7 linked regions of the Homo sapiens genome follow. The protein of the gene in region 7 purifies or fractionates together with the protein of the main gene of each other region. This does not show direct contact. Each region holds a gene or a part of one and is shown on either strand. Other genes may lie near its edges.

Region 1 (4,430 bases), on a different chromosome or scaffold from region 7:
CATGTGCCCTCTGCTTTAGGCCATCCATGAGGGTCAACAACTGTGATACAATGCGCCGCTCCACCTCGCCATGAGTCTGCCAGAACAGGATGTCTGGTCAGAAGTGAAGTCAGGGCCTTTCAACCCCCCTCTATCCCCTCAGGTAAGCTCCTACTTTCTCTCTTTTGGGAGCGATGGCATCTAGCTCATCAATGAAGATGATGGCAGGAGCATTCTTCTCAGCCTCCTCAAAGGCTTTACGAAGGTTGCTCTCAGACTCACCAGCCAATTTGCTCATGATCTCAGGACCTGAAAGGATACAGAATGGAGACAATAACAAAATGATAGTCTTTCCCAATTCCTCCCAAAAATCAGTTATCTTGCTTGTTTGGCCCAGAGACAGGTCCTGGGTGAGAAGGTGGTAACCTCTGCCTACTTCTCACATCCTCTACCAGCCATTATCCCAGGACAGCCACCAGGCAAGGCTGGAGAGAAGCCCAGGGACTCACTATACTCTTCTCACAGTTGAACTGTAAAGGTGACAGCAAATGCTCTAGGACCTCTGGCTAGAGCAAGAGAGATGGCACACCAGATGGCACACCACTAAACAGCATTCTCCAAGAGCCAGTGATCAAAGTTCATTTGCCCCAAACCCTCTCAAATCACTAACCATTCACCCTTTGATTTCTCATTCTAGCTTGCTCCCGCTCTGCAGTCTGTCCACAATCTTTCTCAAAGGGGGCAGGACAGGGAGCACCAATGTAAAATATCTTCCCTTTATTGCTCTTCTGTCTGTAACATACCCCAGCATAAGAAATATGCTATAAACATGAAGGAGGGCATGGGTGCAAAAAGGATGTGTTCATAAGTGCTCCAGCTCATAAGCCCAGTTCAAAATTGGGTCTAGCTAGACATAAGATGAACCAAATATCTCACCATTGATCAAGAAGAAGAAGGCTCCAGTCTCATTTGCTACAGCTCGAGCAATCAGGGTCTTTCCTGTTCCAGGAGGTCCGTAAAGCAGGATTCCTCTAGGAGGCTGTGGACCAATGCAGAGTGTGATTAGGTTCCCACCTTCTCCCAAACCCTAAAATGGCTTGACTAGCGCTCCAGAGAGGGTGAGAATCAGGCTTCAACCCTGACAATATTAAGAATAAGCCCTCCGCAGTAAATGCTAAGAAGACAATTACTTTAGGCCACACTCATTTCTATTACTAGCAGGGAAAATACTGCTAGAAAGTGGGCAACATTTATGATTGCAACTTGCATAGGAGACTAAGGGCAGAGAAACTGTAGTCCAAATGCGTTTGAAGATACATGACTAGGGAAAGGCAAGAGGCCATTACACTAAGGGCTCAATTTTAGACAGACCAAGGGCCAAAGACTAGCTAAGCCATTTAAGAGAGCAGGGTCTATTTTCTTCATTGCCAGAGGATCACTCACTCCAGTAATCATGCCCTCCAGAATTTATCACACTGGAATGCTGTTCCTTACAATCATCATTTTTCTTCTTCAACACTACCCTTTCTATGGCCTCATCCACAAGCAGAACATGTAAACTGTCCACATAGAAAATGAAATTATTTGTGTGCCACCCACTAGGAAAATGAGTAACTTCATCTTCAGTGTGTTCCATGGAAACACTTTCCCACTAGGAAAAGATTGAGAAGCTACACTCTAGACCAATAGTTCTCAAATGTTTTAGACTCAGAACCCTTTAACACTCTGAAAATTTCCTTAACTTCCTTACTTCTACTGGGTGACATTGCTCTAGACAGGCTGGCAAACTATGGTGAGATTTGTTTTTACAGGGTCCATTGATACAAGAATGGCTTTTATATTCTAAGAGTTGTAAAGAAAAACCCATATATATATGTGTGTGTGTTTTGTGCGCACACGCACACAACAGACAATTTGATTAGCCTACTCTGGTTTTAGACCATCAGCTCTAATGAATTTAGAGCCTTAGGTAAACTAAAGGATACGTTATTGCCCCTCTAATCCAAGGCAATAATGAAAGCCATGCATGAAAACAGTCCCAGGATTAGACATTGGGACAGGATTAGACATTGGCACCACTTTAGACTTGATTCCAGAGCCCAGGATGCTCACCTTCACACCAATTGCCTTAAAGAGGGCAGGATGTCTCAGGGGCAGTTCCACCATCTCCTTTATCTGAGCTAGCTGCTTCCTGCAGCCACCAATGTCATCATACCCTACTTCATTCAAGGACTCTTCCTCATCCTGAATATGGAGGAGATAAAGAAAGGAGAAGGCAAGAATATTATATCAGCAAAAGCTGAGTTTCTCTAAATCATTCCACTACCTAGTGTGCAAAAACCTACCGTATAAGAAGATTCTCAACCCGGCATGGTGGCTCACATCTGTAATCCCAGCACTTTGGGAGGCAGAGGTGGGAGGAATGCTTGAGTCCAGGAGTTCCTGGGCAATACAGCAAGACTCCATCTCATTAAAAATTAAATTAAATTTAAAAAAGATTCTCCTCTAAAGGGATCCGGCCTCAAAGAACAACTACAAAAATCCCAAGGCAAAGATTTCTAGCACAGTCCTTGCCTCTCACATTACTCGTAGTCTTACTGAGAAGGGGTCTCTAAAATCTGAAGCTGGAAACCCTGGGAATGGGCAGAGGCCTGAAGCCACCATCAGCTTTACTTCAAAAATGATTTCAATCACTTATATATTTTGGGTTCAGTCTAGTTTTTTGAAATTCCTGGCATTAGGTAAATCCAAGAAACAATTAGGCCCAGAAATGAATAGCTGGCAGGTTTCTCATCCCTGAAAGATGGTTAGTTCTCCAAAGAACACCCAGTCTTTTTCTTTTTTGAGACAGAGTCTCACTCTGTCACCCAGGCTGGAGTGCAGTGGCACAATCTCAGCTCACTGCAACCTCCGACTCCTGGGTTCAACCGATTCTCCTGCCTCAGCCTCCTGAGTAGCTGGGATTACAGATGTGTACCACCATGCCTGGCTAATTTTTGTATTTTTAGTAGAGATGGGATTTCACCATGTTGCCCAGGCTGGTCTTGAACACCTGACCTCAAGTGATCTGCCCATCTCAGTCTCCCAAAGTACTGGGATTACAGGTGTCAGCCACCGCAGCCGGCCGAGCACCCAGTCCTGACAGTTACCACATGATGCCACACTGAGTAATCATAAAATCGGATACTGGAATCAGGGAGAAAACTCACCTCTCGTTTGATAGGCTCCCCTTCGCAGTGGATCACTGTGTCTGGAGCAACAATGCAATAAGGGCTAGGATCTGTTTCCACCACTTTGAACTCCACAGCACGCATCCCACCACGGACAAGAAAAATGTCTCCTGCGAGAGCAAACAGTACAAGCACAGTTAGAGGTGTCAACTACAAGACAAAGTGAGAACTCATCAGACCCTGGGGTCAAAATGCCAAGCTCATTAGATAGTGCCCTTCATTAGATATTGCCCTACCTCTCCCCAACTCCACCCCACCTGTCTTAATAAGCAGCAGGCAAGATGAGAAAGGTAAACTGTGAAGAGTCCCTCTGACAAGAGGTCAGTGAACAAAACCTGACATGTCAGAAGCCCATCAAGTTCTGACTTCTGCCATATAGGTAGCCCAAGTTTTCACTACAACCACCAATGGTAGAACTGTGCACTCTGGACCCTGACCCAGCCAAAATGGACCACTTTCTCCTTCAGAGATCCATAAAGATAGCTTACTCTCCTGGAACAGAGAAGGGGAGAGATGGAGCAAAGGAAGGATGGAGGAAAAAAAGAGGGTAAGACATATGAATATGTGTGCAGGGTTTGCATGTGTGTGTATACAAATATATGAAAATGAGTCTAGCGGCCGGGCACAGTGGCTCACCTGAGGTCAAGAGTTCGAGACGAGCCTGACCAACATGGTGAAACCCCGTCTCTACTAAAAACACAAAAATTAGCCGGGCGTGGTGGCAGACGCCTGTAATCCCAGCTACTTGGGAGGCTGAGGCAGGAGAATTGCTTGAACCCAGGAGGCGGAGGTTGCAGTGAGCCGAGATTGCACCACTGCGCTCCAGCCTGGGGGACAGCGCGACACTCTGTCTCAAAAAAAAAAGAAAAGAAAATGAGACTAGGCTTGATGGCTCATGCCTGTAATCCCAGCACTTTGGGAGGCCATGGCAGATGGATCACTTGAGCCCAGCAGTTTGAGACCAGCCTGGGCATCATAGTGAGACCCTGTCTCTTTTTTTTTTTTTTTGAGACAGAGTCTTGCTCTGTCACCCAGGCTGCAGTACTGTGGCCCAATCTTGGCTCACTGCAACCTCCACCTCTTGGGTTCAAGCAATTCTCATGCCTCAGCCTCCCAGGTAGCTGGGATTACAGGTGCCCACGATGGGGTTTCGCCATGTTGGCCAGGCTGGTCTCAAACTCCTGGCCTCAAGTGATCCACCCGCCTCAGCCTCCCAAATTG
Region 2 (4,430 bases), on a different chromosome or scaffold from region 7:
GACTCTGAGGGAGATGGAGATAGGGTGCATCTGGCAGGTGACTCTGGTCACTTTTCTTTTTTTTTGAGAGAGAGTGTTGCCCTGTCACCCAGGCTGGAGTGCACTGGAGTGCAATGGCACCATCTCAGCTCACTGCAACCTCCACCTCCCGGGTTCAAGCAATTCTCCTGCCTCAGCCTCCTGAGTAGCTGGGATTACAGATGCTCGCCACCATGCCTGGCTAATTTTTGTATTTTTAGTAGAGGTGGGGTTTCACCATATTGGCTAGGCTGGTCTTGAACTCCTGACCTCAAATGATCCACCCACTTTGGCCTCCCAAAGTGCTGGGATTACAGATGCCCACCACCATGCCTGGCTAATTTTTGTATTTTTAGTAGAGGCGGGGTTTCACCATATTGGCTAGGCTGGTCTTGAACTCCTGACCTCAAATGATCCACCCACTTTGGCCTCCCAAAGTGCTGGGATTACAGGCCTGGGCCATCACGCCAAGCCGACCCTGGCCATTCTCTTGCTGGGGTGAGAATAAACTCCAGAGGGTGAAGGGGAGGCAGGGACACTGCCAGGAGACTTGTGCAGTAAAATCTGCTGGAGGCGGGCAGCGGGTGGTAGAGGTGAGGAGTAAGAAGCAGTTGGATACCAGACATATTGAAGGGATGGATATGGTGATGGAGTCGGCAGCGACTGGAAGGCTTTGGGTGCTGTGGGTGACTGAGGTGGGGCAGCCTCGGGGAGGAGCAGTTGTTCGGAGGTTGATCTCAGCTGCACTCAGTGGAAATGCCTGTTGGACAGTTCAGAGGAGGTGTGGTGAGGCTGGTAGATAGGAGGATCGTAATTGGAGTTGAGAGTTGAGATTCACACTTGGGGCTATTTAAATCCTTGAGACTTTGGCTAGGGGCAATGGCTCATGCCTGTAATCCTAGCACTTTGGGAGGCCAAGGTGGGTGGATCACTTGAGGGCAGGAGTTCAAAACCAGCCTGGCCAACATGGTGAAACCCCATCTCTACTAAAAATACAAAAAAATTAGCCGGGCATAGTGGCGCGCGCCTGTAGTCCCAGCTACTCAGGAGGCTGAGACAGGAGAATTGCTTGAACCCGGAAGGCGGAGGTTGCAGTGAACCGAGATCGCGCTACTGCACTCCAGCCTGGACGACAGAGCGAGACTGTCTCAAAAAAAAAAAAAAAAAATTGCTTGAGACTGATGTCGTCAAGAGAGCAAGTATAATTTACATTTTTGTAGAGATGAGGTCTTGTTGTGTTGCCCAGGCTAGCCTTCAACTTGATCCTCCCCCCTTGGCCTCCCAAAACACTGGGATTACAGGTGTGAGCCACTGTACCTGGCCATGAGAGTGAGTGTAGTTTCAAAGAGGAAGCTGGCCGGGTGCGGCACTTTGGGAGGCCGTGGCAGGCAGATCACATGAGCCCAGGAGTTCGAGACCAGCCTGGGCAATATGGTGAAATCCCGTCTCTACAAAAAATACAACAATTAAATGGGTGTGGCGGTGTGCACCTGTAGTTCCAGCTACTCTGAAATCTGAGGTGGGAGAATTGCTTGAGCCTGGTAGGTTGATGCTGCAGTGAGCCGTGATCTTGCCACTGCACTCCAGCCCAGGTGACATAGAAAGCCCTGTCTCAGAAAAGAAAAAAAAAAGAAAAGTGGAAGCTGTCCCAGGCCTGAGCAGGGCGGGGTAGGCACATGGGAGACAGCCCTCATGCCCGTGGTCACATGGCAGGCACAGTGGCTAAGTGTGCAGTGACTGTTTTCCTTTTTCCTTTTTTGAAACGGAGTCTCCCTTTGTTGCCCAGGCTGGAGTGCAGTGGAGCGATCTCGGCTCACTGCAATCTCCACCTCCTGGGTTCAAGTGATTCTCTTGCCTCAGCCTCCAGAGTAGCTGGAACTACAGGTGTGTGCCACCACGCCCAGTTAATTTTTGTATTTTTAGTAGAGACGGGGTTTCACCATGTTGGCCAGGATGGTCTTGATCTCTTGACCTCGATATCTGCCTGCCTCAGCCTCCCAAAGTGCTGGGATTATAGGCGTGAGCCACCACACCCAGCCTCAGTGACTGTTTTCTTGCAGGTGACACACCATGTCTCGAAGGGTGCTGTATGGTTTGGTGGCATCCCTGACCCTCAGAGCTTAGAGAGATGAGGAGTGGCCTTGGAGGCAGGAGGAAGACAAGGAGAGGGTGGGGGCGCCAGCCCAGGGAAGGAGGCATCTAGGCAGGGCCACAGCCAGTGGCCTCAGTTCTGCTAAGGGGCCAGTGGGGGTGGGGCGCTGGGTTTGCCCCCTCTGATTGAGGGCGTTCAGCTGACCTTGGCTAGAGCAAAAGCCTCCCGAGGGAGAAAAGAGGTGGAGGCAGCACGGACAGCTTCATGAGGAGTTTTGCTGTAAAGAAAGCAGAGAAATTGAAGGGTAGCCAGACAGAAACGTAAAGTCCAGGATTCCCTTCCTTTTAAAGAAGTAGCTGAATGTGTATATGCTGTTGGGTCTAAACCAGTAGGGTGGGAAAAATTGATGATGGGGGTACTTCCTAGGATGATGTCTTTTTTTTTTGAGATAGGGTCTCACGCACTCTGTCACCCACGCTAGAGTGTAGTGGTGCCATCACAGCTCACTGTAGCCTCGACCTCCTGGGCCCACACAGTCCTCCGACCTCAGCCTCTCGAGTGGCTGGGACCACAGGATGCACCACCATGTGCAGCTCACTTGCTTATTTTTCAAGATGGAGTTTTGCTCTGTTGCCCAGGCTGGAGTGCGATGGCGCAATCTCGGCTCACTGCAACCTCTGCTTCCCGGGTTCAAGCGATTCTCCTGCTTCAGCCTCCCGAGTAGCTGGGATTACAGGCATGCACCACCATGCCGAGCTAATTTTATATTTTCAGTAGAGATGGAGTTTCGCCATGTTGGTCATGCTGGTCTCGAACTCCCGACCTCAGGTGATCCAACCACCTCAGCCTCCCAAAGTGCTGCGATTACAAGCGTGAGCCATCGCGCCCAGCCACTTATTTTTTTTAGAGAGACGGGGGTCTCACTGTGTTGCCCAGGCTGGTCTCGAACTCCTAGGCTTAAGCGTCCTCCCACCTTGGCCTCCCAAAATGTTGGGATTATAGGTGTGAGCCATGGCGCCCAGCTTGGAATGATGTGCTTGAGCCTGAGGGTGGGGGTGGGCTAGTGTGGAGTGGAGAGGCAGCTTAGGTGGCAGCTGGAACAGATCCTCTGAGGATTGTGGGAGGAGGCCAAAGGCAGATGTGCTGGTGGGGGCTGAGGAAAAAAGACAAGGTCATCAGCTGGGGGTAGGAGCAAGATGGGTAGGGGAGAGGGGAGGGTGCCCAGGCCAGGGGAGTGAAGTGTGCTTGCCAGGTGAAGTGTGCGTGGTGGGTGGGCACCTGTAATCCCAGCTACTTGGGAGGCTGAGGCAGGGGAATCGTTTGAACCCGGGAGGTGTAGGTTGCAGTGAGCCGAGATCGCGCCACTGCACTCCAGCCTGGGCAACAAGAGCAAAACTCTGTCTCAAAAAAACAAGTAGAGGAGGGAGGCTGTTTCTAGCCCCAGGAGGGCTGCGGGCAAGGCTTAGAGGTGGGGGAACTCTTCTCAGTGTGGCGGGAGCGGGGCTGAGCTGGGCTGTGCAGAGGGCCCCAGCCACCTGGTTGAGGCGTGGAGGCCAGCACTCCACCCTGGCCCTGACTTGCTTGCCCTGAAGTTCTCTTGGGCTGAAAGACTGGAGGAAACGCATTGCTCAAGGACATTCACTCACCTGTTGTTGTACAGTCCTGTAGGCCCCGCAGAACTTTAGTGACCCATGCAACTAGTTTGTCCTTAAGTGCCCAGCTTCCTGCCGTCTTTTGGGAGGACTCTGGGCAGTGGGCCGCTCCCATTGCCACATTCAGCAGCCTGTTTCAGGGACCCAGGGTGGCAGGTGGCTGCTGGGAGCTCAGTTGCCACCTTTGGAGTGTGACCTTTGCTGGGGGACATTTCCTTGGCCAGCCCCCGTTCTGGCCTGATGTTAACCTGTCGGGGTGGGGCTGTCTCCGCAGGACCTCCACAAAAAGTACTCGTACATCCGCAAGACCAGGCCTGACGGCAACTGTTTCTATCGGGCTTTCGGATTCTCCCACTTGGAGGCACTGCTGGATGACAGCAAGGAGTTGCAGCGGTGAGAAGGGTGGGCACTGGGCACCGAGGCAGGTGGGTGTCTACCTCCTCCCCGGGCGAGTAGGATGTGTCTCGAGTAGGGTGTCTCCCTCCTTCCCGGGCGATGGGCTGGACTCTGGCCTTGCCAGGCGGGGCAGTGCTGTCTCGGCCCTGGCGTCTGGGCTGGTCGAGGAGCCCATGCTGGGCCCGCCTTTCCATCCCACCCCCAGGTTCAAGGCTGTGTCTGCCAAGAGCAAGGAAGACCTGGTGTCCCAGGGCTTCACTGAATTCACAATT
Region 3 (4,214 bases), on a different chromosome or scaffold from region 7:
TTAGAAAACTCATTTTATAGTTAAATTATCTAAGGGTTCCATAGAAGGCTTTAAGAAAAAAAAATTATCCAAGGGAAAATACTCTTTCAAACAGAAACACACACCGACTCCATTCAATGGAAAACTTTGTAACTAGAGGTACCAAAGATAACCAGATAAACAAAAGATAATTTCAGTGTTAAAATCATATGAAACGTGTGTGTGTGTGTGTGAGAGAGAGAGACAGAAAGACTATCAGGATAAATAGGGAGTGAATGAATTTTAGGATAGTTACAAAACTGAAACATCTTGTAAAAACGTATTACCTTACAATAGTTATTTAAAAAGTTATAAAATAGTTATTTCCATACAAATACCTTATGGAAAGGTCCCAGAATTTTCTCCCCAGCATAGGATTTGAAGTTCTGGTTTACAATATGAGTTATCATAAGCCGAGGAGCTCCAGCTTCATTGGTCATTGCTGGAGGCGGGGGAGGAGGAATGCTGTTCAAAATCTCTTCTAAACTTCTATTATCAAGTTCCTCACTTGCAGTCTCTAAGTCAGTGAAAGGAAAGGAAAACGAAGGCAAACGGCGGGGGAAAAGCCTACATTAGTGCAATTAGTTCGGAGAACTAATGACTGCCCATCTTTAAAGTAGGGGATGGAGGGATGTTATTTATGAAACTTAGGAGTCTATATTTTCCACTTAAATATGTTATTATCTTAAACTCACGGGGGTGACTAAACCTTCAGCTTGGTTTTACTAAAAAAGAAATTCTTGAAAGAAATGCCACCGGTCACAAAATTCTATACACCTATACCTCTTAAGAGTCAAAACACTACATCATAGAGCAAATCTGGGAAAACCGTAACAAGCTATTTCCTGCTGCCTATCCTAAACAGGAGGTTAAATCCTAAGGCTCTAGATGCAATTCTCCGTACCGCTGAGCACCTGGAACCTTCATTTTGGAAACTCATGAACTTCAGCGACACTGCCACGAGGGTTTAATAATGTCACCCAACTCCTGGACTCACAAAAGCTACAGTGGCTTCAAATAAATTATCGTCTTCTCTTTAACGGCAATCTAACACCACGGAGGTGAGGTTAGGGTCAAAAAACTTTTCATCATGCTCACATAGTCATATTGATTGTCTCTGGGAAAAAAGTCCACTTGCTCTCTTGATTGACCGTCTCGATTTTAGCGGGAATACAATAAAGATATTGAATTTTTGTTTGTGACCTGTACCATTCCACAGGTCACAAACAAAAATTCACAACTGAACCCGTTTGCTCGCCCCCATCCCTTCCAGCGCCGTTACACCAAAATTGCACGGGAATCCTATCTCAAAGTTGCCAAATGGCTTTCCTGAGCCTCTACCGGACCGACACCGGACCTTCAGATGTCAACTCCGCGCTCAACAACCCCAGCCAGCCTCGGGCTGGGCGCGTTTGCCTGCCAGTCCCACAGCGCGCGTTCCCGCCGAGTCGCGGCGGGTCACTCACCTGCGGCGGTGGCTGGGCTCTCCGTGCGGCCGGACGGCGGCTCAGGCTCCGCGTCGCTGCTGGCGCCGTCAGGGGACGGCGGCGGCGGCCCTTCCTCTCTGCGCCGGGCAGTGGAGGGCTGGGTGCCTTTACGGGGCATGGTCGCTGGGGCCGGGGGACAGCCGGGAGCAAGTCAGCCCGCGGGCCGCTACACCGCGCCCGCCCCACCCGGGGAAATCTCGGTCCACCGGCTTCCGAGAGCCCCGCTTAACACTCCGCTTAGAGGCAGCGGGACTTCGGGAAGGGAGCCATCGAAAGACACGAGTGGCAAGAAGGCAGGACTGGTTTCTTAACAAGACCTATGTAAGTGGGAAAATCTAGACGTGCCTGAGGATCAATCAACGATTGAGCAACTGCTTAGTTTGTTGTTGTTGTTTTTAAGGCTCTCCACCCGTCCGCCCATAGTATAAGCGTATAATATTCGCTAACGCATTTCTAATTAAGGAACTCCCATACGCCAGCATTTCCGGACATTCCCACGCTTTCGGGGCCAGGGATGCAAGCGCGCACCGACGTGGAGAAACGAGTTCGTGTCCGGGTCAGGATCCCGTGGCTAGCAACTCTCTCCAGAGCGGTGAAGACTAACTGGCGACTCGCCGCCCGCTTTCGTCTGCCCGCCCTTTAGCTCCTGGCGCCGTTGACGGCCCGGGGCATAACGAAGTCTCCCTCCTCTCAGCGGTCGGACCGCGAAGGGCGAAGGCTGGGACTAACCACTAGCAACTTCAAGTCGGACGCTGGCAGCGCTTGCTAATTTTGGAGTGGCAAGAGTTTGTCTCTCCAGCTCCCCAGGCGGAGTCCCGTTGGACAGTAAACCATGAAAGGTCACCAGCGAAGGCTGAGACCCGGTGACTAGTCCGTTGGCAGAAGGAAGAGGGGTAGGGGGAGACGCCCTTTTCCAGATAGAGACTAGGATTTTTTAAAGAAAAGATCTGCGAGGCTCAGGGCCTCCCCGAGACATTTGAGTAGCTTGGAAAAGTGGCGCCCGGGAGCTGCGCGCGGGAGCCCGGGCCGCCGGGGAGCGGCCGAGGGGGGAGGGGTGACAGCAAGAGAAATCTCCCAGCGGCAGCTTCAAGCCCGGACTTCGCCGCTCGGGCTCAAGGCCTCTATTTTCCAGGCGCTCGCGGACAAGGCAGGAAGTAAGAGCGTGACAACCTGACCAGGAAGAGAAGTACTTTACCTGCAGGACAGTCCACTCAGACCAAGGCTGGAGACGGTTGTGTAGTACCCACCTCCCCGCTCCTACCGGTGTTTCGGCTCCGGGTCCTTCACTCGAAAATGGCGCCTAAAATACAAACTCGAACGGAAATTCGTTACAAATGCGCGCAATGATTTCTGGGATCCACTAATTTGAAAAAAAGTGCGGCGATTATCACCGCCATCTTATTGTCGCTCCTGCGCATGCGCGAACTCCTGGCGGGACCTACGCGGTAGAAGTTTCTACTAAGTGAAAAGGAAGAGCGAGGGATTCTTTTCTCTGTGGTCTACAGCAGCAGCACTATTATTAAAAATATTTGGAAAGACAACCTGGCAAGTTTTGAAAAAGATTTTTTTAAAAACGGTAGGGTTCCGCTCACAGTGGGAGGCGGGGCTCAGTGGTCCAGAAACGCCTCTTCAGAAGAGGGCGGGCTCGCCGAGAGGCGGGGTCTCGGGCCCACTCGGATGACGTGCCGCGTAGAAGTATCGCGGGAAGAGGAAGGGAGCGTAACTCTTAGAAGTCACTATGGTGACGGGGAGGTACCAGGTATTTGAGAGCAATCGCCACCGCTTTCCTGGAACTTGAGGTAAATCCCTTCACCTCTGGACCTGGTGAGAAAAGGGTTTGGAAGTTGTAGCCATCACTGGATCCCATCTTTCCTGTTTTGAAGCTGTGTGCTTCGTGGAGCATCATTTTCTGTCTCCCTGGCGGCAGCGGGGCTCCGGGTGTAGCTTTTGGGATGCGAAGGAGGAAGCCCTAAATTTTAAGGGAGTAGAGAGACAACTGGAAGACCTGGATTCGTGATAGCTTAGTCGACATGTGAATAGCGCAATAATGATTTTCGAGATCATTGGTGTTACTAGTGAAAGGTTTAGGACTTTTAAAATAATTTGACTAAAAGGCTCTTTAGTGGAAAAAACGACTCGCCAGTGTTATGGTTATTTTTATGAGGAAATTATCGATCAGCAAATATTCCCTAAGTAGTGTTTGTATACATTGCCCTGGGTAAGGCATAATTAGAATTAGTAAGCAAGTTTGGCGATTCCTGTTCCCCGAGAACTTAGTTTTAGTGGGTTTTTAACCTGAGGTCTGTGGATCTGGTGGTAGGTGATTGGGCTTCAGAGTTCATAACTCGCCTGACATTGTATACATAATTCTATGTGCATTTTTCTGGGAAGTTAGTTTTCCTACAACTTTATAATCAGAATCTCATACTTGCTCCTAATTCCCTATATTGTTAAAGAGCCACTGGCTCATTTGACTATCTCCAGTATTCATGCAACAACTCTTAAGTACTTGACATTGAGAACTACTAGCCTCCTTTTTTTTTCTTTAACTTTTGCTTACTTAGGGTCTGGCATGTTAAATCACCATTAAATCTCCCTTTTGAATGAATTTACATGATCACTCTAAATACATTATGGTTCTTCCCTGGAAGAGCATGAAGTCAGGTTCAGTGATTCTCAAAAAGGTGTGGAGAGCCACCCCCCTCCCAA
Region 4 (4,430 bases), on a different chromosome or scaffold from region 7:
TACACACACTATACCTTTCTCTGATTTGTCCCACCAAGCTAAAACCAGCTTGGGAGAAACTCAAGGAGAGAAAGAAGACAATGGGCCATAAGCTCAATTTCAAACCATGCGGATTGGGCAGAATAGGGAGGACAGAAAATCAAATAAAAGGAAAAGTGGTATATTAGTTTGCAGATAGTATATACCACCTCCAGGTCTGTCCTATGGGTGGGTTGAAGGTTGATGAGATTTTAGGCATGATTCCTGCATAACCTGGAGTAGTACTAGTCACCTTGATTGGAAGATTTCAAGTGCCCTGGCCCCGGGTGCCAGCTTACCTAGTACGTGACTCCCAGTCTCTTTCACTAAGGGACTCCCAGACCCCCCAGGGCTGTTTGGCTAAGTGGCTGTGCCTCAGAGGGCAAGATCTGAGGTTCTAAATCAGACAGGGAAAGTGGCCACTGTTACTCTCTGAGCCTATTCAGGCTGTACGCCAACACTGCAGCCAGGGTACTTCAAAACCATGATGACAAGGAAGATGGACAGAGCTGTAGAGTAAAACTGTCCGGGATGGATCAATATATTGCTGACCATCCATCCATTTCAAAAGGAGGGGTGCAGAAACAGAAAGACTCACAAAAGCACAAATAATCCAAGTTATCTTACAATTGCATATAAACCTCCTTCTCATCCCATTTACATTTCTCTAAAGACCTAGCATAGGGGAATATTAAAATGAGTTTTTCCCAGAGATAATCCACATACAGCCAAGAACTGAGGACTGTGGCTGTCATCCCTTTTGTTTTCTATCCTTGTCTAGAATAGCTAAAAGTCATTCCATAAAAAAATCTTCATTTGATCTTAGTCTGAGGAGGAGAAAGGAAACTGCCTTCTAACTCCAGCCCCTAAATGCCTCATGTTCAAAAACATTTAAAGCCTCCATGCTTCTATCCCATCCTCCACTGGACAGTTTTACTCTGCAGACCTCACAAGGGGAAGAGACAATGATTCATGGATCATAGCTGTTTCTAACCCTTGATTAATGATCTTTAAACATAAGGCCAGCAGGCCCCTCAGTGACCCAGCCAGGGACTCACTGGAATTTAAAACGATTAGCTACAACAATAGCACAGTGGCAGAGCATTGCATGCGAGATGGCAGATGAAAAAAACATGCAGAGAAGAAGCATTGAATGGTCTTACTTGTGCAAACTAGTGTCCAGGCAAGGTGGTGAGGAGGGAGGATGGGGGAAGCATTAGGAAAAACTCAGGTAAGTTCAAGTGCGCCAACAGTCAATGAACACAATCAAGCATACTCCAGGATCTTCTAAACTGTAAGGAAGTACTGTTTCTCATCTCAGGAGTGTCCAGTAATATCTACCTTTTGGAGAAATGAAGCCTCTGCCAGGGCCCCATCAAACTATGGCTAGGTCATTTTTTCCCCTTTTACTGCGGGTAGTTATGCCATAAAGAGAGAAGCTAAATTGTTTCTAATGAGGTTTTTCTTAATTTACTTCCCTTATTCCAGCAGTTCAAAAGCCATGAGCAGAAAGCCTCACTGACCCAAGGCAGGCTGTGGGCCCAGGGGTTAGGGTCGGGGTGTGTGTGTGGGTGGAATTCTATTTGGGAATTAGTTTTCCAAACATTTTAAGAAAAATCTCCAAGCAAGCCTATTGCCCCAATTAACCTGGGAGTGTCTGAAGTGCAAAGAGATCTTCCCAGATTGAGGAGGAAAGGGCTACAGCCCGTGCACTTTCCTGGTCCATTCCTGTTTTAGAAGATTTTACTTCCTGCTAAAATTGTTTTAAAGGGATAGTAGAAAAATCAGGATTGGCCAGGCACAGTGGCTCATGCTTGTAATCCCAGCACTCTGGGAGGCCTAGGTGAGTGGATCACCTGAGGTCAGGGGTTTGAGACCAGCCTAGCCAACATGGTGAAACCCTGTCTCTACTAGAAATACAAAAAATTAGCCGGGTGTGGTGATGGACACCTGTAATTCCAGCTACTCAGGAGGCTGAGGCAGGAGAATCTCTTGAACTCGGGAGGTGGAGGTTACAGTGAGCTGAGATCACGCCATTGCACTCCAGCCTGGGCAAAAAGAGTGAAACTCCATCTTGAAAAAAAAAAAAATTCACGATCATCTGTAGCAAAATTTAAATCTTTTATGCTTTCCTCCCCCATCCTCCCCACTATGGGAATCGGAAAATGTTTATGTTTAAGTTAAATTAGCAATTTAAATCTTTAAGGGATGTTTGAGGACATTTTTCCTTTAGTAGCCCAATTTCTTCCACAGTGGAGGAATCACAGGAAGAAAGTTATGGAGCAGTGAGGGTCAACACAACTTGACTATTCCTTTAGACAGAAATCTGGAGACCCGGCTGGCATGGTAGCTCACGCCTGTAATCCCAGCACTTTGGGAGGCCAAGATGGATGGATCACTTGAGGCCAGGAGTTCGAGACCAACCTGGCCAACATGGTGAAACCCCATCTCTACTAAAAATACAGAAAATTAGCCAGGTGTGGTGGCACATGCCTGTAATTCCAGCTACTTGGGAGGCTGAGGCAGGAGAATCGCTTGAACCGGGGAGGCAAAGGTTGCAGTGAGACAAGATTGTGCCACTGCACTCCAGCCTGGGGGAAAGAGTGAGACTCTGTCTCAAAAACCAAAAAGAAATCTGGAGACCCCCTGAAAGGTTCCACAAGAGTCTATCCATATTGGTTGTCTCTAGGGAAGAGAACTGAGTGGTGGTAGGCAGAGGTGGGAGGCAGATTTTTCACTACTTACCCTTGAATCCTCTGTTCCCTGTGCATACATTACCTACTTTAAAAACTGATAAAATTAAAGTTGAAAATAAACTGAAGATTAAGGCGGAGAATGCTGTTGTCAGGGGTTAAGAAGGTGACTGAGGCTGGGCATGGTGGCTCACGTCTGTAATCCCAGCACTTTGGGAGGCCAAGACAGGCGGATCACGAGGTCAGGAGATCGAGACCATCCTGGCTAACACATGAAACCCCGTCTCTACTAAAAATACAAGAAAATTAGCCGGGTGTGGTGGTGGGCGCCTACAGTCTCAGCTACTCGGGAGGCTAAGGCAGGAGAATGGCGTGAACCCGGGAGGTGGAGCTCGCAGTGAGCCAAGATCACGCCACTGCACTCCAGCCTGGGCGACAGAGTGAGACTCCGTCTCAAAAAAAAAAGAAAAAAAAAGAAGGTGACTGAAAATCTCATGGTTCAGCCACAAGACAGGTCATGTGCACTGTCACTTGTACTAGGTCTTGGGCAGGTAGGCAGGAAACAGACAGGCTGCTGGTGAGATCCCAGGCCTCACGGACATGACATTTCTAGATTATCTAAGCATACAATTCACTGCTCCTCAAATTGCATATTTACGTCAGTATTAAAAGCAGTGGCAGAGCCATTACTCAGCTGACTTCCCAAAAGCTGCAAGCCCCATAGGGACATGCGGGGGCCAGAGACATTAGCTGACATCAGGAAACATCTTGGCTCTTCGGGCCCCTGAAGTGGCTGAAGGTCTGCCCACCCCATTCCTCCCTAGTGACAGAGAGTCACTTAGCTGAGCCTTAGGTGACAGAAACAATTCAGCTCTTCTTGTATTTGCCATTCAGCTCATATGCACTTCTATACTGGCATCCTGGGCAACATGCCACAGGAAATGAACACTCACAGTATCCTCTCCTCATCAGCCACCCCACTAGATGCTACTAAAATAGGCTGTTCAGGCTCTGGGGGAGAAACAGCCAATCAGAGCTGCACAGTCAGGTTCTTCCACACCTGGAATGGGTGTCATCTCCTTTTTATTAAGAGATATCCCAGTATCTTCAAAAGGGAATGACAATATGTATTTTTTTGTTTAGAAAGAGGATTACTGTGAAACTACCTGTTTGTATCACAGCGACAAAAGGACTGAGTTCTATTCATTATCTCACCATGAAGGGCAGAAGCCTAGGCCTAAGTTGAACAGTCTGAACTGTGGTAGTGCAGTAAAGTTCTCAGCATACAGCTGTCTCTTGGCAACTGTGGGAGACTGGTTCCAGGACCTCCCTTGATACCAAAATCTGCATATGTTCCCATCTTCTATATAAATTGGCATAGTAACTGCATATAACCTACCTACACCCTCCTGTATACTTTGAATCATCTCTAGATTACTTAAAATACCTAGTACAATGTAAATGCTATGTAAATAGTTGTTATATTGTATTTTTAAATTTTGTTTTTTTTTTTATTGTTGTACTGGTTTTTTTTTTTTTGAGATGGAGTCTTGCTCTGTCACCCAGGCTGGGGTGCAGTGGCGCAATCTCGGCTCACTGCAACCTCCACCTCCCAGGTTCAAGCAATTCTCCTGCCTCAGCCTCCACAGTAGCTGGGACTATAAGCGCTCGCCACCACGCCTTGCTAATTTTTATATTTTTTAGTAGAGACGGGGTCTC
Region 5 (3,182 bases), about 13 Mb from region 7:
CACCTGCCACCACGCCCGGCTAATTTTTTGTATTTTTAGTAGAGGCTGGGTTTCACCATGTTGGCCAGGCTGGTCTCGAACTCCTGACCTCAGATGATCCACCCGCCTCAACCTCCCAAAATGCTGAGATTACAGGCATGAGCCACTGTGCCTGGCCAGTTTTATGTATTCTTTAGACTAGTGGTTTCCAAAACTAAAGTTTTCTCTAAAGCTGTGGACCTTCTCCCCCAGATAATTTTACATAGAATGCAATATATAAAGCAGTTAAAAGCGGAGTTATTCTCTAACGGAAAAGTACCAAGGGCACTCCAATTTGGCCAGCTTTTGGGGTTGCACAGAAAAGTTTGAGAACCACTAAAAAGCCTGTTACCTTGAGTATGAGCTCTAAGCCAATGGCAAATCCTGGCTCTATCACTAAGTTGGAAACTTTGGACAAATTACTTAAGCTCTGTGGCTCAGCACCCTCACATGAAACATGAGATTAATAATACTCCCATATCCATAGGGTTGCAAGGAATGAACTAGTAAGCCACTTTCCCACAATTCCATGACTATACATTGATTAGACCTCTTCTTCCCCTTTAACTCTTTACTCATCCTTTAAACCCATTTCCCTTCTTCCTGAAGTTTCCCGATATCCTTAGTGTGCGACAGATAACCCTCCTGTTTCCACAGCACCTGTTACTTTATACTACTATTGCTGTAGCAGTTCCCCTTTTCCTGAGTTGGGGAATGTATCCTTTCTTTGTCTTTGTCCTATGTAGAAAATTAAAACTGGCAATGCTGTCAATGCAAGTGCTGGGGCAACTGTAGACAGACATGTCCTGGCCCTTGAGAAATTAGTATCTAGGTAGAAGGCAGCAGAAAACAAGGGACTGGCTGTCTAGGTGAAAAAAGTGGCAGGAACACAGGCACACAGATCTGAGTTGTTAGGCTAGAGTAGTGCTGTCTATCACTGCAAGCAAGCCACAGATGTCATTTTAAATGTTCTGGTAGCTCTATTAAAAAAAGAAACAGATGAAATTAACTTTAATGCATTTTATTTAACCCAACACATATATTTCAACATGTAATCAGTATCAAATATTTTTGACATATTTTACATTTTGTGTGCTGTCTTAGAAATCTGCTGTGTATTTTACACTTACATTACATCTCAATTGAGACTAGTCATATTTCAAATGAGTCCTATGTGACTAGTGACTTCGGTACTAGTAGTCCAGGGCTAGAGGAAAATGTTCATACGGAAGAGTAACAGAGGTTCAAGTTGGAGGTAGGGGTCAAACTAGAGGGGGTCTGAATGCCACTAAAGAAAGTGGAAAGCCTTTGAAGGATTTTGAGTTGATTGTAAAGTTAATCTAGTGGTTAACACAGGATTAAGAGACCATCCTTAATGCCACTGTAGCAATCCTTCCTTCATTTCATTGAGGCTGTTCCACTCTGTCACAGCTTATCACTGGTGGTGCAGACTGCTTTTCCAAGCATGTACTTTTGTACCTTACCAACGGGTCTGGTAGGTAGTGAGGACTGAGCAATCAGGACAGCAGTATGCAGATGCTTCCCTCTTCAGATGACACACTCTTAGGCATGGCTGGGCACTAAAAAAGGTCCTTTGACAATGTTGGTGAAAGCTGAGATTCAGCCAGAGTATCAAACAGTGCGGATTGATGTGCCACAGGTACAATGTCAAGTATGACTCAGAGGACAAATTATCTAGATCCTTCTAATAATAGCATGTACCCCAACAACTGGATTCCTTAGTATTCTTCAAAATCTGAGGTAAAATCACTCTCGCTTTAAAAGATACCAACTTCACCCCTTCCTCTCTTCCCAACTCCCTCCTGCTTCCTTAAGGATCCATGCCAGCTAGCAGGTAAACCAGAGACTGACTTGCTGACATCTTCCTTACCTTATTCCTCAGGTATACATCCTAGGCAGGGAAAATTTACAGAATGCATCCCAGCCTGATTCTGGAAGAATGAGAAAGTTATCTGAGGGCTCCCAAGGGCCTCCTGTGCATACCATCTTTATCTTCCAACTTAGAACTAACCAAATTCAGTCTTTTTGTGTAATGAAAAAAGGATAAGCTGGGCACAGTGGCTCACACCTGTAATCCCAGCACTTTGGGAGACCGAGGCGGGAGGACTGCTTGAGCCCAGGAACAAGACCAGCCTGGGCAACATAGCGAGACCCTGTCTCTATACAAAAATAAAGAAGAAAAAAGGATGCAGGAAATTAGCAATAGGATAGCCAACACCCTCACTAAAGCATCAATTTCCATATGATGTTAAGTACCAGGTAGAAATCTCTCTGACTTTAAGGAGCTTTGGACACAAAAACTTTTCCTTAAACAAGCCATTTATTTTCTAAACATGGACTTCCACTAGTTGTGTAACTCTCCTAGAATTCTAGCCAATATTTAATAATTGTTGCCACACTTTTGTATTTCAACTTAAGTATTTTATATTATTAAAAACTACCAATTATCTTAACAAACCTGCACATGGAGGGAGAGGTATATGAAACTCAGCCCACTAACTAGACCAAAATCCTCCTCAATGACACTAAGGTTGTAATACTAAAAAGTCCCAATCACCCTCCCAGGATTCTATTAAAGCAAGCTGTGGTTAACAGACAAGATGCCTTTTTCGTCATCATTTTCAAAAGCATTGTCACTTTTTTTCCAAGACACAACTTCTTTGAACCTGTTTCATAACCTATCATATAAATACCAGCCTCAATACTGCTATCAAGATTAAACAATGAACAAAAAAGTGTTTTATAAGTAAGAGTGGACAATGTGAGTTTTTATTGTTTGGCTCATTAGAAATGTTCTTGGCCATCTCATGCAGGAACAGCTGGAGGAAATGGAAGAACGCCAGAGGCAGTTAAGAAATGGGGTGCAACTCCAGCAACAGAAGAACAAAGAGATGGAACAGCTAAGGCTCAGTCTTGCTGAAGAGCTCTCTACTTATAAGTCAGTTTCTGCTGCTATACAAATCTCATCTAATACTGGCTGAGGGGATGGTGGGAGGGCTTAGGGAAAATTTTACCTTAGAATCAAAAACAAAAAGAGGATTTGGGAAATGATTTTCAAATTGTGCTTATCCAAAAACACATGGAAAATGGCTCTCTCTTTTTAAAGGGCTATGCTACTACCCAAGAGCCTGGAACAGGCTGAT
Region 6 (3,211 bases), on a different chromosome or scaffold from region 7:
ATAGCAGATGGTGTCAAATCCAGCATTGGCTTGAACACCTGGCCTATTATCAGGGACCTTGTGGATGATATCTTCACTGTCACAGAGGATGAAATTAAGGTGAGGCTCCAGCAAGAAAAGAAATAGCAAAGCATGGTGTAACTTCTTAGGCAGAAGAAACTTCCCTTAGGAGTAGCAAGTGACCCACGGGAACCTGACTAGGTAACTTCATGACATGGGAGGGTACCCTAGATGTATTAATGACAACCCTCTTGACAGAAGCAGAGTCAGAATTAAAGAAAAGCTTTGGGAAGCGTGTGTACACAGTGATAAGAAAATTCAAACTGGACACGTATTCTCATCTGAACTTTATAGGTAAACCAACTAGACTCCCCTTTCACTAATTCCTACTCCCTTCCATATCAACAGTGTGCAACCCAGCTGGTGTGGGAGAGGATGAAACTACTCATTGAACCTACAGCTGGTGTTGGAGTGGCTGCTGTGCTGTCTCAACATTTTCAAACTGTTTCCCCAGAAGTAAAGAACATTTGTATTGTGCTCAGTGGTGGAAATGTAGACTTAACCTCCTCCATAACTTGGGTGAAGCAGGCTGAAAGGCCAGCTTCTTATCAGTCTGTTTCTGTTTAATTTACAGAAAAGGAAATGGTGGGAATTCAGTGTCTTTAGATACTGAAGACATTTTGTTTCCTAGTATTGTCAACTCTTAGTTATCAGATTCTTAATGGAGAGTGGCTATTTCATTAAGATTTAATAGTTTTTTTTGGACTAAGTAGTGGAAAAACTTTTATACTTAACTGAGACATTTTGTCAAGGCTAAAAAAAAGTCTTGCAAAATGGGGCAGTGGACTGACAGGCTGACATAGAAAATAAACTTTGCCCAATCACAACTTGTGCCTCCCATCCCTGGAGTACTGACTGGCACCGGTAAGACAGAATCTCTTTGAATCCATTACTCCATGCCCCCTTGAGGCACTGTTGAAGAAATCTCACTTTTCAGCCAGGGTACTGGTTCTGGTACATATGGATCATAAGTCCATTTGGGGAAGACTCGTTTATACAGGTTCATCAGTACTGTGTCTTGAGATTTTAGCTTCCCATCAAAGCTGCATTTCATGTGGCCATGGGTACCTAGAAAGACATCAGAACAAGTCGGTCAAATTAAAAGTAGAAAATTTTAAAGCAATGACTTCCAACCCAACAGTCATTTAGCAACACTGCAGAAATGCAGACATGGTCTCAAATCCCGTGTTTCCTTACCTAAAGGTTCCTTGATATGTCCTCTCCGGCCCCACTTCGTTCTCAGTTCCACTGGTTTAAACCACAGCACATCCTCTTAGAATCAAACACATTAAAGACCAAGATGAAACATTTACCCACAAAATGTAAACCCAACCTTTATACCACAAAGGCAATCAGATCCCATCCTCCTCCTTCATACCCACCTCTGTTGAAGAACATGTAACGTACTACTGCCATCTTAGTAAAAATTTTGAAAGGATGACCACTCAGAACAACTCTCTTGATGACCATTCTGTCTGGATCTACTGACATAAGATGGCCTGTAGCAATGAGGCTGTGCATTCCTAAAGGACAAAAGCAAAGAAGCTATTTAGGAATTTACAGGCCAAAGTCTTCATTTATTGCCCAGTCCATTTAAAGACCCATGCAAGAGCCTGGTTTGTCATCCCTGCCCTAGCCCAATCTGAGGCTAAGATTGGTAAACTGTAAGCCCACACTTAACCTTGTCAATAGGTTCTTGAAAACTTGTACTTCAAGAGAAATGATGTATAACAAAACCATACTTTTTCTCATCAGTTGTTACAAGGAAAGGATGTTGAACAAAAGGCAGTTATTTGAGGACTGGCTATACACTGTTTCACGTAAAAGTTGGAGTTTTCATTGTTCTATTAACAATGTTAAATGAAGACTTACTGTATTTTGAAAACCATCATTACCTTCTCCATACCATTTGGCTCCCAAATTTAAATAAACAAGAGAAAACGGTGTTCATCTATTAAGGACCTGCAGGGTCTGTTCATCTCTGTGGCTCAACTTACCATTGCTTTTTTGCTTGAAAAGCAGCACAGATGCAGGAGGAAAAGTGATTGGCGCATAGACTGTCGCCACCAGGGCCATGTCAGCAGTCAGGAATCTCTGCAATTTATGTTTGTCCGCTGCCATAAGGGTTAAAAAATGAAAAGCAAAACCATTTTGAGAAACCAGAGGTGATAGAGGCCTGTGAAAAGCTGTATTAGTGCAACTCTTAAACCTATGGCAGCTTCTACTTCTCTAAACCACCAGTTCTCAAAAATTTTCGCTGCCTCAATGCACCTAAAAGATACGATCTAGTCCTATCAGTAACTTTTTTTTTTTCTTTTTTTTTGAGTTTGAGTATCGTTCCTGTCACCCAGGCTGGAATGCAATGGTGTGATCTCAGCTGACTGCAACCTCTGCCTCCCGGGTTCAAGCAGTTCTCCTGCCTCAGCCTCCTGAGTAGCTGGGATTACAGGCACATGCCACCACGCCCGGCTAATTTTTGTATTTTTAGTAGAGACCGGGTTTCACCATGTTGGCCAGGCTGGTCTCGAACTCCTCACCTTGTGATCCACCCACCTCAATCTCCCAAAGTGCTGGGATTACAGGCGTGAGCCACCGCGCCAGGCTGTATCAGTAACTTTTTATTTATTTATTTATTTTGAGATGGTGTCTCGCTCTTGTTGCCCAGGCTGGAGTACAATGGTGCCATCTCTGCTCACTGCAACCTCCACCTCCCAGGTTCAAGTGATTCTTCTGCCTCAGGCTCCCGAATAGCTGGAATTGCAGGTGCCTGATCAGTAACTTTTTTATCTGGAGTCAGAATCTTGGAGCCTAGACTGTATTTGATGTTCTACCTTCAAGGTAGCCCTCACCTCCTTTTTAAAATACTAAACTTAAAGGAAAATAAAATATTTTAAGGCAAAGAAAAATTAATCTCACTTAGAGATTGTGATTCTCACAATTGGTGAGAATAAAAATTATCCAAAACACCATTAATACTGCTTTCTTCATATTCCTCCTGCCACTGCTGAGAGTGAGTGAACTAGGACGATGTTCAGAAGCCCCCAAGTTAGTGGGCAACATATCTTCCTGCTCCTACTGTGTAGGAGACAATCATTTCTGCTGCAAGTCCCGTCCAGTAGTCTCTCAGTATCTCAGGACCCCTACCTCTGCT
Region 7 (4,430 bases):
CCAGATGGATGGTCTTATTAACTCTGCCCATCCTCTAGCAGAATATGCAGAAAAGCTGAAGTAGATTTACATATGTAGGATAATTGATAGAAAAGTAAATACTTCATCTTCCCAATTTGTAGGAAAAATTAAATTGATATTGTTATCTTCTATTCTTACCTGGTATCTCTTCCTACTCATACCAGAATACTAGAAGACAACCTCTAATTTGAAACAAAATATCTTAATTACTTGGAAGTTTTACATCAAATTTTTAAATTAAAATTCCTATAATTGCTTCAGAAGAATATTACTGGTTCCTCTTGAGGAATCTGTACCATCTTCAAGGAATGGTGGGGAGCTAGGTTAAGGAGAAAGCCATCGCCATTACTTTTTTTTTTTTTTTTTTTTTTTTTTTTGAGACAGAGTCTTGCTCTGTCACCCAGGCTGGAATGCAGTGGCGTGATCTAGGCTCACTGCAACCTCCGCCTCCTAGGTTCAAGTGATTGTTCTGCCTCCGCCTCCCGAGTAGCTGGGACTACAGGCATGTGCCACCACGCCTGGCTAATTTTTTGTATTTTTAGTAGAGACGGGGTTTCACCGTGTTAGCCAGGATGGTCCCAATCTCCTGACCTGGTGATCTGCCCACCTTGGCCTCCCAAAGTGCTAGGATTACAGGTGTGAGCCACCGCGCCTGGCAGCCATTGCCATTACTTTAAAACCTTTCCCAACTTGTGCCCAGGTATCAATGGCAATGCCCTGATGTCCTCAGTAAATTTGTTAAAGTATCTTTTTTTTTTTTTTTTTTTTTTGAGACGGAGTCTTGCTCTGTCACCCAGGCTGGAGTGCAGTGGTGCGATAATCCGCTCACTGCAAGCTCCACCTCCTGGGTTCACGCCATGCTCCTGCCTCAGCCTCCCAAGTAGCTGGGACTACATGCGCCTGCCACCACACCTGGCTAATTTTTTTGTTTTTTGGTTTTTTTTTTTAGTAGAGACGGGGTTTCACCATGTTCGCCAGGATGGTCTCAATCTCCTGACCTCGTGATCCGCCCGCCTCGGCCTCCCAAAGAGCTGGGATTACAGGCGTGAGTCACCGCGCCTGACCCTGTTAAAGTATTTTCTAAGCTTCTTTGAAAACGGAATCTCTTTGTGGTTGCTGCTGATAAAACTCCTTTGACCTGACGATTGCTCTAAGTCCTAATTGCCATATTTATATTCCCATAGTAAGAGTGTTTGGAGATAGTGTTTGAGCTTTTTTGCTGGTGTTAAAAATGCATAATGAAAGATGGCAGAGAGAGGCATATTATATCCAATTCATGAGTTGTTTGTGTTAACAGAAAGCTTATTTTAATCACTTAACATTGTTGATTTGTCTAATCACAGTAGCGCTATTGATTAGGAGCCTGACCTTTAGATGGTTGACTTGTGAGTGTATTCAATATGGTGAAATATGGTGTTGATATATGGCTGCAGATTTTAGAGGTGTCATTAGCAAAGGTATAGGAGTAAAATAGGGGTTATAGTATTCCTTACTCAAATTCTGTATGTGCTAGAGCTGGCTGGAGTCTGTGGCATGCTCATTGGTGTAAGTCGGTAAGGACTATGCTTTTTGCTCCACATCTCTGTTGTGGGAAAGCTAGTCTCTTGAGCATTCTTGATCAGAATGGACTGGAATAATTTAACTTTCGTACTTTCCCAGGCTATTAGTATTATCTAATGAGTGGCTTAAAGATACCAGAAACACTGACTGAGGTCTCCACCTGCTTCTGGCTGAATGAATGGGAGCTTCTAGCCATTGAATAAGAGGCAGTAGCCAATGTTTCTTATTCTGAATGGTCCAGGTTGACTTTTATAAGAGAAACACTCAGCCTTTTAATTGCTGAAGGTCTGACCCATAGACTAAGATTGCACATTCTTAGTCTAGGTTACACTTGAACTAGACTGCACCCACTGACGATATATTCAGTTCAGGTGTTAACTCACTTGGATTAGCATCTGGCCTGTCCTATCTGAATATAGGTTGAGACGTGTATTGGAATCTCTGACTAGTCAGAATACGTTCTTAGTTATATTCTCAATACTGAGGAATTTTTACTTGTAGAAACTGAAGGCTCAGAAGAGGATGATAAAGAAAATGATAAGACCGAAGAAATGCCAAATGATTCAGTCCTTGAAAACAAGGTATGTTGTTAGCCACTCAGTACTGTTGTCAGCCTTTTTCTGTTTTTGGGAGACTGGAGCTCACTCTTGTTGCCTAGGCTGGATTGCAGTGGGGTGATCATGATCATGGCTCACTGCAGCCTAGACCCGGGCTTAAGTGATCGCCTCACCTCAGCCTCTCAAGTAGCTGGGACTACAGGCTTGTGCCAACATGCCCAGCTAGTTTGCAGGACTGTAGCTTACCTAGTTTAGGCACGATTATTATTTTTTTAAGAGATAGAATCTCTGTCTCTGCCCAGGCCGGAGTGCACTGGCATGATCAGGGCTCACTGTATCTTTAGCCTCCTGGGTTCAAGGAATCCTTCTGCCTCATCTTCTCAGATAGCTAGGTCTCCAGATGTCTGCCACCATGTCTGGCTAATTTGTTCTCTAATTTTATTTTGTTTAGACGGCTGTCTTGCTGTGCTGCCCAGGCTGGTCTCAAACCTGGCTTCAAGTTATTCTCCTGCCTCAGCCTCCCAAAGTGTTGGGATTATAGGCATAACCCACCATGCCCAGCCCTAGGCATGATTATTATAGATAACTGTCTCTTGATTATGGATTAGGGACCCTTTATTCATGCCTAGGATGGGTGGATATATTTGATCCTGGGGTTCTTGTGTGTTAGTATGTGAGCCAACATTTCACTGTTAAAATATCAGTGACATGGTCATGACTTAAGACAGTATGTGGACCCATTCTCTAGATTTTAGGGAGAAAGTCCAAATTTTGAATCGTATATCAACTTTTTTTAAGCTACGCTAAGTTATACATTTAGATTTGTATTTGAAAAAGATGCCTATCTTTTTATTATTTGGTTATACTTTAGTCTCTTCAAGAAAATGAGGAGGAGGAGATTGGGAACCTAGAGCTTGCCTGGGATATGCTGGATTTAGCAAAGATCATTTTTAAAAGGTAAAACTCTTGGTGCTTCTAGGCTTGGGTTGGGAGTTTGGTGGTTAAATAGAAACCAGTTAGGGTTAGACAGGTACTGTTAAGGTTTTTGATCAATTTTCCTTCTTTTAGGCAAGAAACAAAAGAAGCACAGCTTTATGCTGCCCAGGCACATCTTAAACTCGGAGAAGTTAGTGTTGAATCTGGTAATGCATTTTCCATTTTATACTCTCCTACTCTCTTCAGCTCCCTCGTTCTTCCTCTAATAGATTCTCTGGAACCGAACTTGATCTTTAAAAAGATAGGTCTGTGTTCCCTGTAGACCCTGGAACAATGAACAGTCTCTTCCAAGTGGCACTCAGTCTTCCAGTAGGTTTGTTTTGTTTTGTTTTTTTTGAGATGGGGTCTTGCTGTGTCGCCTAGGCTGGAGTGCAATGGCGTAATCTCGGCTCACTGCAACCTCCGCCACCCGGGTTCAAGCGATTCTCCTGCCTCAGGCTCTCGAGTAGCTGGGATTACAGGCACCCACCACCACGCCCGGTTAATTTTTGTATTTTTAGTAGAGACGGGGTTTCACCATATTGGCCAGGCTGGTCTTGAACTCCTGACCTTGTGATCTGCCCGCCTCAGCCTCCCAAAGTGCTGGGATTACAGGTGTGAGCCACCACGCCCAGCCTCAGTAGGTTTTTAAAAGTCATTTTGACTTTCTTTATAGCCAAGGGTCCTGGAAATAACTATAAACAAAAATGGAATGTTAAATATGGGTGCATTCCCATAGGATGGGTCTGAATTCTGGAAGTATTTTATGTTGAATGCTGTCCATTTACTTGCTCTTCTTTTTCTCTTTGTTAGAAAACTATGTGCAAGCTGTGGAGGAGTTCCAGTCCTGCCTTAACCTGCAGGAACAGTACCTGGAAGCCCACGACCGTCTCCTTGCAGAGACCCACTACCAGCTGGGCTTGGCTTATGGGTACAACTCTCAGTATGATGAGGCAGTGGCACAGTTCAGCAAATCTATTGAAGTCATTGAGAACAGAATGGGTGAGTGAAGACGAGCTGCTTCATGGTGATGTTGGATCCAGCAATTAACAAGGAAGAAAACAGTTCTTTTTTGAGCCATTACTAATCACTTTATTCTTTTTAGCTGTACTAAACGAGCAGGTGAAGGAGGCTGAAGGATCGTCTGCTGAATACAAGAAAGAAATTGAGGAACTAAAGGAACTGCTACCCGAAATTAGAGAGAAGATAGAAGATGCAAAGGAGTCTCAGCGTAGTGGGAATGTAGCTGAACTGGCTCTGAAAGCTACTCTGGTTGGTTCCGTTAACATTTTGATAATAGCATGTTTGGTACCATTT

Evidence for each region.
Region 1: the proteins of NASP (region 7) and VCP fractionate together in Homo sapiens (co-fractionation; 2 studies listed by BioGRID). This does not show direct contact.
Region 2: the proteins of NASP (region 7) and OTUB1 purify together in Homo sapiens (co-immunoprecipitation; one large-scale study listed by IntAct). This does not show direct contact.
Region 3: the proteins of NASP (region 7) and SMC4 fractionate together in Homo sapiens (co-fractionation; one large-scale study listed by BioGRID). This does not show direct contact.
Region 4: the proteins of NASP (region 7) and DCTN2 fractionate together in Homo sapiens (co-fractionation; one large-scale study listed by BioGRID). This does not show direct contact.
Region 5: the proteins of NASP (region 7) and RBBP4 purify together in Homo sapiens (co-immunoprecipitation; 5 studies listed by BioGRID and IntAct, with this or other methods). This does not show direct contact.
Region 6: the proteins of NASP (region 7) and TSR1 fractionate together in Homo sapiens (co-fractionation; one large-scale study listed by BioGRID). This does not show direct contact.

What each region holds. Positions count from the first base shown.
Region 1 is NC_000009.12:35,062,063-35,066,492, forward strand, and holds part of VCP (transitional endoplasmic reticulum ATPase), read right to left. Parts: intron 3,320-4,430; coding exon 3,189-3,319; intron 2,224-3,188; coding exon 2,092-2,223; intron 1,019-2,091; coding exon 916-1,018; intron 289-915; coding exon 155-288; intron 77-154; coding exon 1-76. UniProt on the Homo sapiens protein: Necessary for the fragmentation of Golgi stacks during mitosis and for their reassembly after mitosis. Involved in the formation of the transitional endoplasmic reticulum (tER).
Region 2 is NC_000011.10:63,992,494-63,996,923, forward strand, and holds part of OTUB1 (ubiquitin thioesterase OTUB1), read left to right. Parts: intron 1-4,036; coding exon 4,037-4,155; exon of another isoform or gene 4,156-4,363; coding exon 4,364-4,430. UniProt on the Homo sapiens protein: Hydrolase that can specifically remove 'Lys-48'-linked conjugated ubiquitin from proteins and plays an important regulatory role at the level of protein turnover by preventing degradation.
Region 3 is NC_000003.12:160,398,236-160,402,449, reverse strand, and holds the start of SMC4 (structural maintenance of chromosomes protein 4), read right to left. Parts: upstream 2,801-4,214; 5' UTR 2,701-2,800; intron 1,892-2,700; exon of another isoform or gene 1,629-1,891; 5' UTR 1,624-1,628; coding exon 1,485-1,623; intron 536-1,484; coding exon 357-535; intron 1-356. UniProt on the Homo sapiens protein: Central component of the condensin complex, a complex required for conversion of interphase chromatin into mitotic-like condense chromosomes.
Region 4 is NC_000012.12:57,540,183-57,544,612, forward strand, and holds part of DCTN2 (dynactin subunit 2), read right to left. Parts: intron 2,809-4,430; exon of another isoform or gene 2,794-2,808; coding exon of another isoform or gene 2,764-2,793; intron 1,191-2,763; coding exon of another isoform or gene 1,182-1,190; intron 1-1,181. UniProt on the Homo sapiens protein: Part of the dynactin complex that activates the molecular motor dynein for ultra-processive transport along microtubules. In the dynactin soulder domain, binds the ACTR1A filament and acts as a molecular ruler to determine the length.
Region 5 is NC_000001.11:32,684,053-32,687,234, reverse strand, and holds the end of RBBP4 (histone-binding protein RBBP4), read right to left. Parts: coding exon of another isoform or gene 3,146-3,182; 3' UTR 2,978-3,145; coding exon of another isoform or gene 2,853-2,977; 3' UTR 1,024-2,852; downstream 1-1,023. Other genes in the region: SYNC (syncoilin), read left to right, coding at 2,853-2,977, 3,146-3,182. UniProt on the Homo sapiens protein: Core histone-binding subunit that may target chromatin assembly factors, chromatin remodeling factors and histone deacetylases to their histone substrates in a manner that is regulated by nucleosomal DNA.
Region 6 is NC_000017.11:2,323,247-2,326,457, forward strand, and holds part of TSR1 (pre-rRNA-processing protein TSR1 homolog), read right to left. Parts: intron 2,175-3,211; coding exon 2,058-2,174; intron 2,019-2,057; exon of another isoform or gene 1,584-2,018; coding exon 1,443-1,583; exon of another isoform or gene 1,333-1,442; coding exon 1,258-1,332; exon of another isoform or gene 1,129-1,257; coding exon 950-1,128; 3' UTR 628-949; coding exon of another isoform or gene 409-627; 3' UTR 100-408; coding exon of another isoform or gene 1-99. Other genes in the region: SRR (serine racemase), read left to right, coding at 1-99, 409-627. UniProt on the Homo sapiens protein: Required during maturation of the 40S ribosomal subunit in the nucleolus.
Region 7 is NC_000001.11:45,611,087-45,615,516, forward strand, and holds part of NASP (nuclear autoantigenic sperm protein), read left to right. Parts: intron 1-2,082; coding exon 2,083-2,162; intron 2,163-3,009; coding exon 3,010-3,095; intron 3,096-3,206; coding exon 3,207-3,280; intron 3,281-3,926; coding exon 3,927-4,115; intron 4,116-4,218; coding exon 4,219-4,385; intron 4,386-4,430. UniProt on the Homo sapiens protein: Component of the histone chaperone network. Binds and stabilizes histone H3-H4 not bound to chromatin to maintain a soluble reservoir and modulate degradation by chaperone-mediated autophagy.